Linked DNA regions of Homo sapiens: region 2 is linked to region 1. Evidence: fine-mapped expression QTL. Tissue or cell type: whole blood. Region 1 holds a variant in brackets; the other region holds the start of a gene. All regions are shown on one strand. Distances are from middle to middle.

The links. PIP is the estimated chance that this variant, and not a neighbour inherited with it, causes the effect.
Region 2: CIITA starts here. The variant in region 1 is fine-mapped to the expression of CIITA in whole blood (TOPMed, PIP above 0.99).

The regions. Positions count from the first base shown.
Region 1 is chr16:10,910,812-10,914,811 of GRCh38, forward strand. The region is part of intron 13 of CIITA (class II major histocompatibility complex transactivator); the gene reads left to right. Among named protein-coding and RNA genes, the nearest start is that of DEXI, 30 kb to the right of the region's middle. RefSeq lists an enhancer at 1,597-1,646. The variant A/G (reference allele first, on the strand shown) is at 1,875.
Region 2 is chr16:10,875,691-10,879,690 of GRCh38, forward strand. It overlaps CIITA (class II major histocompatibility complex transactivator), which reads left to right and starts at 1,512. Exons shown (of 20, transcript NM_000246.4): 1 at 1,512-1,692. The coding sequence starts at 1,641. RefSeq lists enhancers at 1,126-1,205, 1,536-1,605, 1,646-1,725, 1,766-1,815, 3,236-3,285 and 1 more.

The sequences.
Region 1 (4,000 bases):
TTGTTTACTTCCACAGCCAAGGGATGGCCTCCCCAGGGAGAATCTTTCCCCCATTTTGAAATTCCCAGGAGCTTTTGATGTGCAGCTAGGATGAAAAAGCAACCCTACTTGCCTGGGACTATCCTGGTTTGAAAACTGAAAGTCTTGCATCCCAAGAAGCCCCTTAGTCCCAGGCAAACTGGGACAGTTGGTTGCTCTATGTGTGGCCAGGGCTGGGGGCCACACCCTAGGCAGTGTTGCTGGGGTGACAGAAATGGAGACCTAGGCAAGGCTCTAGGGAGTCCAGTTGTGTCTGGGTCACTGAGGAGGGGCAGCCCACCATACATGGGCCCCAAGAAAGCACAATAATTATTATATTTAGATCTGTCAGAATATAGCTTTTCTTTCTTTCTTTCCTTTCTTCTCTCTTTCTTTTTCTTTCTTTCTTCTTTCTTTCTTTCTCTCTTTCTTTCCTCTTTCTTTCCTTTCCCTTCCTTTTCTTTCCTTCCCTCCCTCCCTCCTTCCTTCCTTCCCTCCCTCCCTTCTTCCCCCTTTTCTTCTTTTTCTTTCTCTCTGTTTCTTTCTTTCTTTCTCTCTCTCTCTCCCTTCCTTCCTCCCTCCCTATCTCTCTCTTTCTTTCTTTCTTTCCTTCTTTTCTTTCTTTCCTTTCTCTCCTTTCTCTTTCTTTCTTTCCATTCTCTTTCTTTCTCTTTCCTTCCCTCCCTTCCTTCTCTTCCTTCCTTCTTTTTCCTTTCCTTTTCTTTCCTTTTCTTTTCTTTCTTGAGGCAGAGTCTTACTCTGTCCCTCAGGCTGGAGTTCAGTGGCACAATCACAGCTCACCACAGCCTCAACCTCCCTAGGCTCAAGTGATCCTCCCACCTCAGCCTCCCTAGTAGCTGGGACTACAGGCATGCCCCACCTGACTAATTTTTGTATTTTTTGTAGAGACAGGATTTCACCATGTTGCCCAGTCTGGTCTCGAGCTCCTGGGCTCAAGCAATCCTCCCACCTCAGCCTCCCAAAGTGCTAGGATTACAGGTGCGAGCTCCCGCACCTGGCCAGAACAGGCTTTTAAATTTGCAGCTCACCTTCCATCTCAATTATCTCAGGCCACCCTCCTCTACAGGCATTGTCATCATCTCCCCATTGTACAAATGGCAATGCTGAGAACAAGAGACTTTAAATTGTTTATCCAAAGTCATAAAGGTCAGGTCAGCCTGGCCCTAAGCTCCTTCCACAGAAAAAGCTAAATGAATGTTTGTTCCTTGGTAGGGGTCTAGATCATCTAATGATTAGGAAGGAGTTGTTATGCCTGTGGTATATTCGGTGCTGTTTTTTTTTGGAGATGGGGTCTTGCTCTGTCACCCAGGCTAGAATGCAGTGGTATGATCTTGGCTCACTGCAATCTCCACCTCTCGGTTCAAGCAATTTTCCTGCCTCAGCCTCCCGAGTAGCTGGGATTACAGGTGTACACCACTACACCTGGCTAATTTTTGTATTTTTAGTAGAGACGGGCTTTAACCATGTTGGCCAGGCTGGTCTTGAACTCCTGGCCTCAGATGTTCCTCCCACCTCAGCCTCCCAAAGTGCTGGGATTACAGGTGTAAGCCACCATGCCCAGCTTATAATTCAGTGCATTTTATATATAATCTCATTAATCTCAAGAGCTACTGTGGAAGACAGACAGTCATCATCTTCCCCATTTTACAGATGAGGAGACGGAGGCCTGGTGAGGTTAAGTGACTTGCCCGTGGTCCCCCAGCTGGTCACCCACAAGCTATCAGCTCTCCCTGATCACTGCTCCCCTGTGCCCCAGAAAAAAGCCAGTGTCTCTTGTTTTGAACAGAGACAAGGTGCTAAATTTGTCCAGAGGTAAAAATGATGCTGAAAAGGGG[A/G]AATGTCTGAAAACAATAACTGAGGGCCCTTTCTGGCCTTAAATTATTTTCAGCTGAAAAAGCCCCTAGTTCAAGATCGGAACTGCGCTCTGGGGAACAGCGGCCATGGGGTGGAACAGCCTAGAGCCGGGTGATCAGCCACCTGGAGACCGGAAGCCCCCGAGGAGGTTCTGAGGAAGGAAGGAAGGAAGGAAAAGACTATTTCTGGCATTTTCTCAGGCTTCTACTGTGCCCAGGCACCCTGTAGACCTCATCTGTCTGTCAAATCAGGGTTCTTAGCCACTCACAACCCTACAGGGACTTCGTTTGTACACAGAGTCCTTCCCCAGTTCAGTCCCCACTCACCTGTTCACCCTTATCTCCTACACTCGCTGGGTGCTCTCTCCATTCCAGCCACAGGGCCTCCTTGCTGGCTTTCAACCTCCTAGGCATGCTTCTGCCTCCAGGCCTTTGCACCGGCTGTGCCCTCTGCCTGGAATACTTCTCCCCAGATATCTGCATGGCTCATGCCTTCACCTCCTCTGGTCTTTACTCAGTGAGGCCTTTTCTTTTCTTTCTTTCCCTGTTTCTTTCTTTCTTTCTTTCCCTCCTTTCTTTCTTTCTTTCCCTTTCTTTCTTTCTTTTTCCTTTTTTCTTTTTCTTTTTTTGAGGTGGAGTCTCGCTCTGTCACCCAGGCTGGAGTGCAGTGGCACAATCTCGACTCACTGCAACCTCCTCCTCCCAAGTCCAAGTGATTCTCTTGCCTCAGCCTCCCGAGTAGCTGGGACTACAGGCACATGTCACCACATCTGGCTAATTTTTTGTATTTTTAGTAGAGACGGGGTTTCACCGTGTTAGCCAGGATGGTCTCAATCTTCTGACCTCGTGATCCCCCCACCTCGGCCTCCCAAAGTGCTGGGATTACAGGCGTGAGCCACCACACCCGGCCTCAGTGAGGTCTTTTCTGACCCTCACAGTTAAAAATAAAACTCTGGCCAGGCGCAGTGGCTTATGCCTGTAATCCCAGCACTTTGGGAGGCCGAGGCAGGTGGATCACAAGGCCAGGAGTTTGAGACCAGCCTGGCCAACATAGTGAAACCCCATCTCTACTAAATATACAAAACAAATTAGCTGGGCATGGTGGCAGGTGCCTGTAGTCACAGCTACTTGGGAGGCTGAGGCAGGAGAATCATTTGAAACCGGGAGGCGGAGGTTGCGGTGAGCTGAGATCACGCCACTGCAGTCCAGCTTGGATGACAGAGTGAGACCCCATCTCAAAAATAAATAAATAAATAAATAAATAGAACTCCATTCCCCTCATGGTTAAAAAAAAAACTCCATCCCCCTCACCACTGTATATTTCCATATGATTCATTGTCTCAGACATCAGCTTGCTTTCCGATTTCTTTGATTATCTGTCTATCTTCCCCCCTGGAATGTCAGCACCCAGAAGGCAGGGATTTTCGTCTGTTTGGCCCACAACTTTCCTCCCTGGGCCTGGCACATAGTAGGCAAGCGGTCAATATTTAACAACGAATGCCTTAATCCAAGAACCCCCATAAGATTGGGGTGAAATATTTGAGGAGATCAAGACTTAAGGGTGAAGGGATTTGCCAAGGCCTTTAGCAGGGAGCCAAATGCCAGATCCTGGAGTCAAACTCTGATCCTGTGGCCTTTTGCTGAGGCCAGTGTTCTCAGACTTCAGGATTTCAGAGGCCGAGAACATTTCGGAATGAATTCGAGTGACCGTGCGCGGTTACTGTTTTTTAATGTTTATCAAGGATGCTCATTCAAACAAACAAATAACAACAAAATACCCACTGCTGGCACCATAATTTTACCAAAGAATGATCATTCTAATATTGAAAAAGTTCAAAGGACATAATTGCAGAATAAAAGACAGCTCTTTATATGGAATGCATTTAACCATATTTTTAAACTAAACGGCCCTTCGTTGTCCTTATTTTTCTCATCCCCTTGAAGTCTGCTCTAAATGTTGATCCAGGCTGTGTGACCCTGTGTGAGCTATTTGATCGCCTAGTGCCTCAGTTTCCCTATATGTAAAATGGAGATAAGAGCCCATAGCTCAGAGTCTTGAGGAGTAAATGAGATCTAGGCCGAGGGAAGGGCCTAGCATGCCCCTGGCT
Region 2 (4,000 bases), 35 kb before region 1:
AGGCAGGATCTCACTCTGTTGCCCAGGCTGGAGTGTATTTCATGATCATAGCTCACTGCAGCCTCCAACTCCTGGGCACACTCGATCCTCCCACTTCAGCCTCCAGAGTAGCTGGGACTATAGTTGTGCACCATCATACATGGCTAATTTTTAAAAAATCATTTGTAGAAAAATTAGCTGGATGTAGGAGAATGGCGTGAACCCAGGAGGCGGAGCTTGCAGTGAGCCAAGATAGCGCCACTGCAGTCCAGCCTGGGCGAAAGAGCGCGACTCCGTCTCAAAAAAAGAAAAAAAGAAAAGAAAAGAAAAATTAGCTGGACATAGTGGCAGGTGCCTGTAATCCCAGCTGCTCGGGAGGCTGAGGCAGGAGAATCAGTTGAACCCAGAACCCGGGAGGCGGAGGTTGCAGCGAGCCAAGATCATGCCATTGCACTCTAGCCTGGCAATAAGAGTGAAACTCCGTCTAAAAAAAAACAAAAACAAACAAAAAAAACCCCAACAATTTGTAGACATAGGGTGTCACTATGTTGCCCAGGCTAGCCTCCAACTCCCGGCTTCAAGCAATCCTCCTGCTTCGGCCTCCCAAAATGTTGGAATTACAGGCACAAGCCACCTGGCCCAGCCATCTACTTTATATTCAAATAAAACTTTACGTCCCATTATAAAGGGAAAAAATGGCAAAAACAGGAGGTAACCATTTAACAAGAAAGCAGAGTGATGTTAGATTATAGCAAGATACTGTTGACTGTAGAAGGCTCTGAGGCTAGAGAGCTGCTTTCTATAAAACAGAGTGATCATATATTAGAAGAGGTGTTAAAGACATGTTCACACCAAGCTGAGACTTCCTCCTTGATACCACCAGGAGGATGGGCAGAGACTGGAAAAGACACTAACTTTCTCCCTATGGGAGTCAGTATTATTTAGCATCACTTTGGCGGGTCACCCCAAACCATCTGACTACAAGGGTACCATATTTGGGTTAACACTCTTTTGGTATAATTTATGTTTTAGTCCAATGTCTTGGGATGAAAATGACAGGTGGGCCACTTATGATCTCCAGAGAAATTCAGGGCAATTTGGTGTGGGAGTAGGCATGGTAGAGGAGAGCAGCATCTAAGAAGTCCCCAGCAGAGGCTCTCAGCTTGTCTTGAGGCATCTGGGCGGAGGGCTATGATACTGGCCCCATCCTGCAGAAGGTGGCAGATATTGGCAGCTGGCACCAGTGCGGTTCCATTGTGATCATCATTTCTGAACGTCAGACTGTTGAAGGTTCCCCCAACAGACTTTCTGTGCAACTTTCTGTCTTCACCAAATTCAGTCCACAGTAAGGAAGTGAAATTAATTTCAGAGGTGTGGGGAGGGCTTAAGGGAGTGTGGTAAAATTAGAGGGTGTTCAGAAACAGAAATCTGACCGCTTGGGGCCACCTTGCAGGGAGAGTTTTTTTGATGATCCCTCACTTGTTTCTTTGCATGTTGGCTTAGCTTGGCGGGCTCCCAACTGGTGACTGGTTAGTGATGAGGCTAGTGATGAGGCTGTGTGCTTCTGAGCTGGGCATCCGAAGGCATCCTTGGGGAAGCTGAGGGCACGAGGAGGGGCTGCCAGACTCCGGGAGCTGCTGCCTGGCTGGGATTCCTACACAATGCGTTGCCTGGCTCCACGCCCTGCTGGGTCCTACCTGTCAGAGCCCCAAGGTAAAAAGGCCGGGAAAGCATCTTAATTTAGCGTGCAGTCTCAGCTGGTCCTGCCATTCCAGATAAACAGAGAAACCATTCTGAATTGGGGATGGGGGTGAGGATGGGAACAGGAGTCTGTGTCCTGCTGGGGCAGGCCATTGGAAGATGTGAAAGAGTTGTCTATTTCCTTCCACCGGAGGGAGACTTCAGGTCAGCCAGGTGTCTGGAGTATGAACCATGTATCAGCACCGAAAGGTTCTAGAAGTCAGACTTTCGGGCAGTGTGTCACTAACTCTCAGCATGCTGGCCTGGCTCGGCCCACAGCAAGGTCTTCTCGCCTCCCTTTGGGTAAATACTGAGGGGTGCCTCTGCAGGACGGGACCTCTGCCAGACTCCACTCCATACCCAGAGAAGCAGGGAAACCAAAATTGGAGTCAGCCTTGAGGTGTAGCTGTTGAGCCCTCAGCAGCTGGGGAGAGCTGGCGGATGCTGCCCTCCCCCCAGTTTCCTAATGGTGTTGTTTAAAAAGGGTCAGGGGACGGGGGAACAGATGGTGGGAAGAGCACAGTGCAGACACCTGGCACCGGCTCTGAAGGCAGCATGGCAGCTACACCGTTGGCTGGGAAGGGTGTGCCCCTGAAGAAGTCGTTTACATTCTCGAGTCAATTTTCCTGGAGTGTACAATGGACCTGTGGGAAAGCCTGTATGAAAGGGTAATGATGAGGGACCTAGCACAGTGTCCAATATTTTATAGGAACTGGAATTGAGCTCATAGGAGCTCAATTTTATTGGCATTGCTGTTGTTGGATGGTTAAAGGGGTGGTATCCCTTTTCTCAGACTCCCCTGAAATGTATGGTTTGCTTTGAACCCAGAGACTGATGACAGGTCTGCCGGTGTGGTTGGGTGCAGCCTTAAGTTGCTACGGGAAAGTGTTGGAGGGGGAGAAGTCAGAGGTAACCTTGCCCCCTCCCTCAATTCCAGATGAGGAAATTCAGGCCTGAAAAGGGAAAGTGACCACCTCAAAGTCTCATGCCTTGGAGGACCCAGCAGGAATCCAAGACCTCTGAAAAGGACCGGCAGGGCTCTTGCCACGGCTGGGGGTGTGGTCATGGTAACACAGGTTTTCCATCCATGGAAGGTACCTGAGGGATTTTCTCTTCCTCCCTAGGGCCAGCATCAGAGGAGTGAATAGCTCAGTTAGCTCATCTCAGGGGCCATGTGCCCTCGGAGGTGGTTTGCCACTTTCACGGTTGGACTGAGTTGGAGAGAAACAGAGACCCACCCAGGGGTGGGGACAAGCTCCCTGCAACTCAGGACTTGCAGATCACTTGCCCAAGTGGCTCCCTAGCTCCTGGCTCCTGGCCCGGGGCCTGGGACTCTCCCCGAAGTGGGGCTGGCCACTGTGAGGAACCGACTGGAGGCAGGGACCTCTTGGATGCCCCAGGCAGTTGGGATGCCACTTCTGATAAAGCACGTGGTGGCCACAGTAGGTGCTTGGTTGCTCCACAGCCTGGCCCGAGCTCAGCGCTGCAGAAAGAAAGTGAAAGGGAAAAAGAACTGCGGGGAGGCGGGGAGGTAGGATGACCAGCGGACGAGCTGCCACAGACTTGCCGCGGCCCCAGAGCTGGCGGGAGGGAGAGGCCACCAGCAGCGCGCGCGGGAGCCCGGGGAACAGCGGTAGGTGACCAAAGTCTCCTCTGTAACCCCTAAGGTCGGGCTGAGAATCGAGGCTCCGAGACTGTCAGCTACTTGCTCAAGGTCACACAGCAAGTCTGGGAGGATGGGGGGATGGAATATGCAAAATGTAGGGCCGGGAAACACCTCGTTTCCAGCATCCCCGCAACGACTCTGCGCGGGAACCAGGAGCCGGGAACCCGGAGCTTGGCTTGCTGTGCCCAGAGCTCCGGGGCCGTGGGCGGGTGGCAGGAAAGCCTGGCGGCAGCTTCTGCAGAGAAGCCGGAGCGCAGACTGGGAGCGCGGAGCAGACACACTCCCCCGGCCACCCTTGGCCGACTCCGCGCGCCCGGGATCCTGCAGAGGTGCGCGCCCTTCTTGTACGCCAGACTTTGGACCAGGGCCGCCGTTCCCTGAGCTTCACTTTCCCTGTTGGGTCATATTCCATCTCTAACTCTGGAATCTTGGGTATTGGGCTCTCCAGGCGGGGGGCCCTGCTCAGGGAGGCAGTAGGGAGCCAAACCTTTAACCAGAGGATGGGATAAGTCCTCAACTCTCGTTGAACATCTTGGCGAAGGTGTGTGTTGTTGGGAGGGGTGGGGGAGGGATCCCCCCGGACTGAACCGATCTCTTGATCTCTCACTTCTCTAC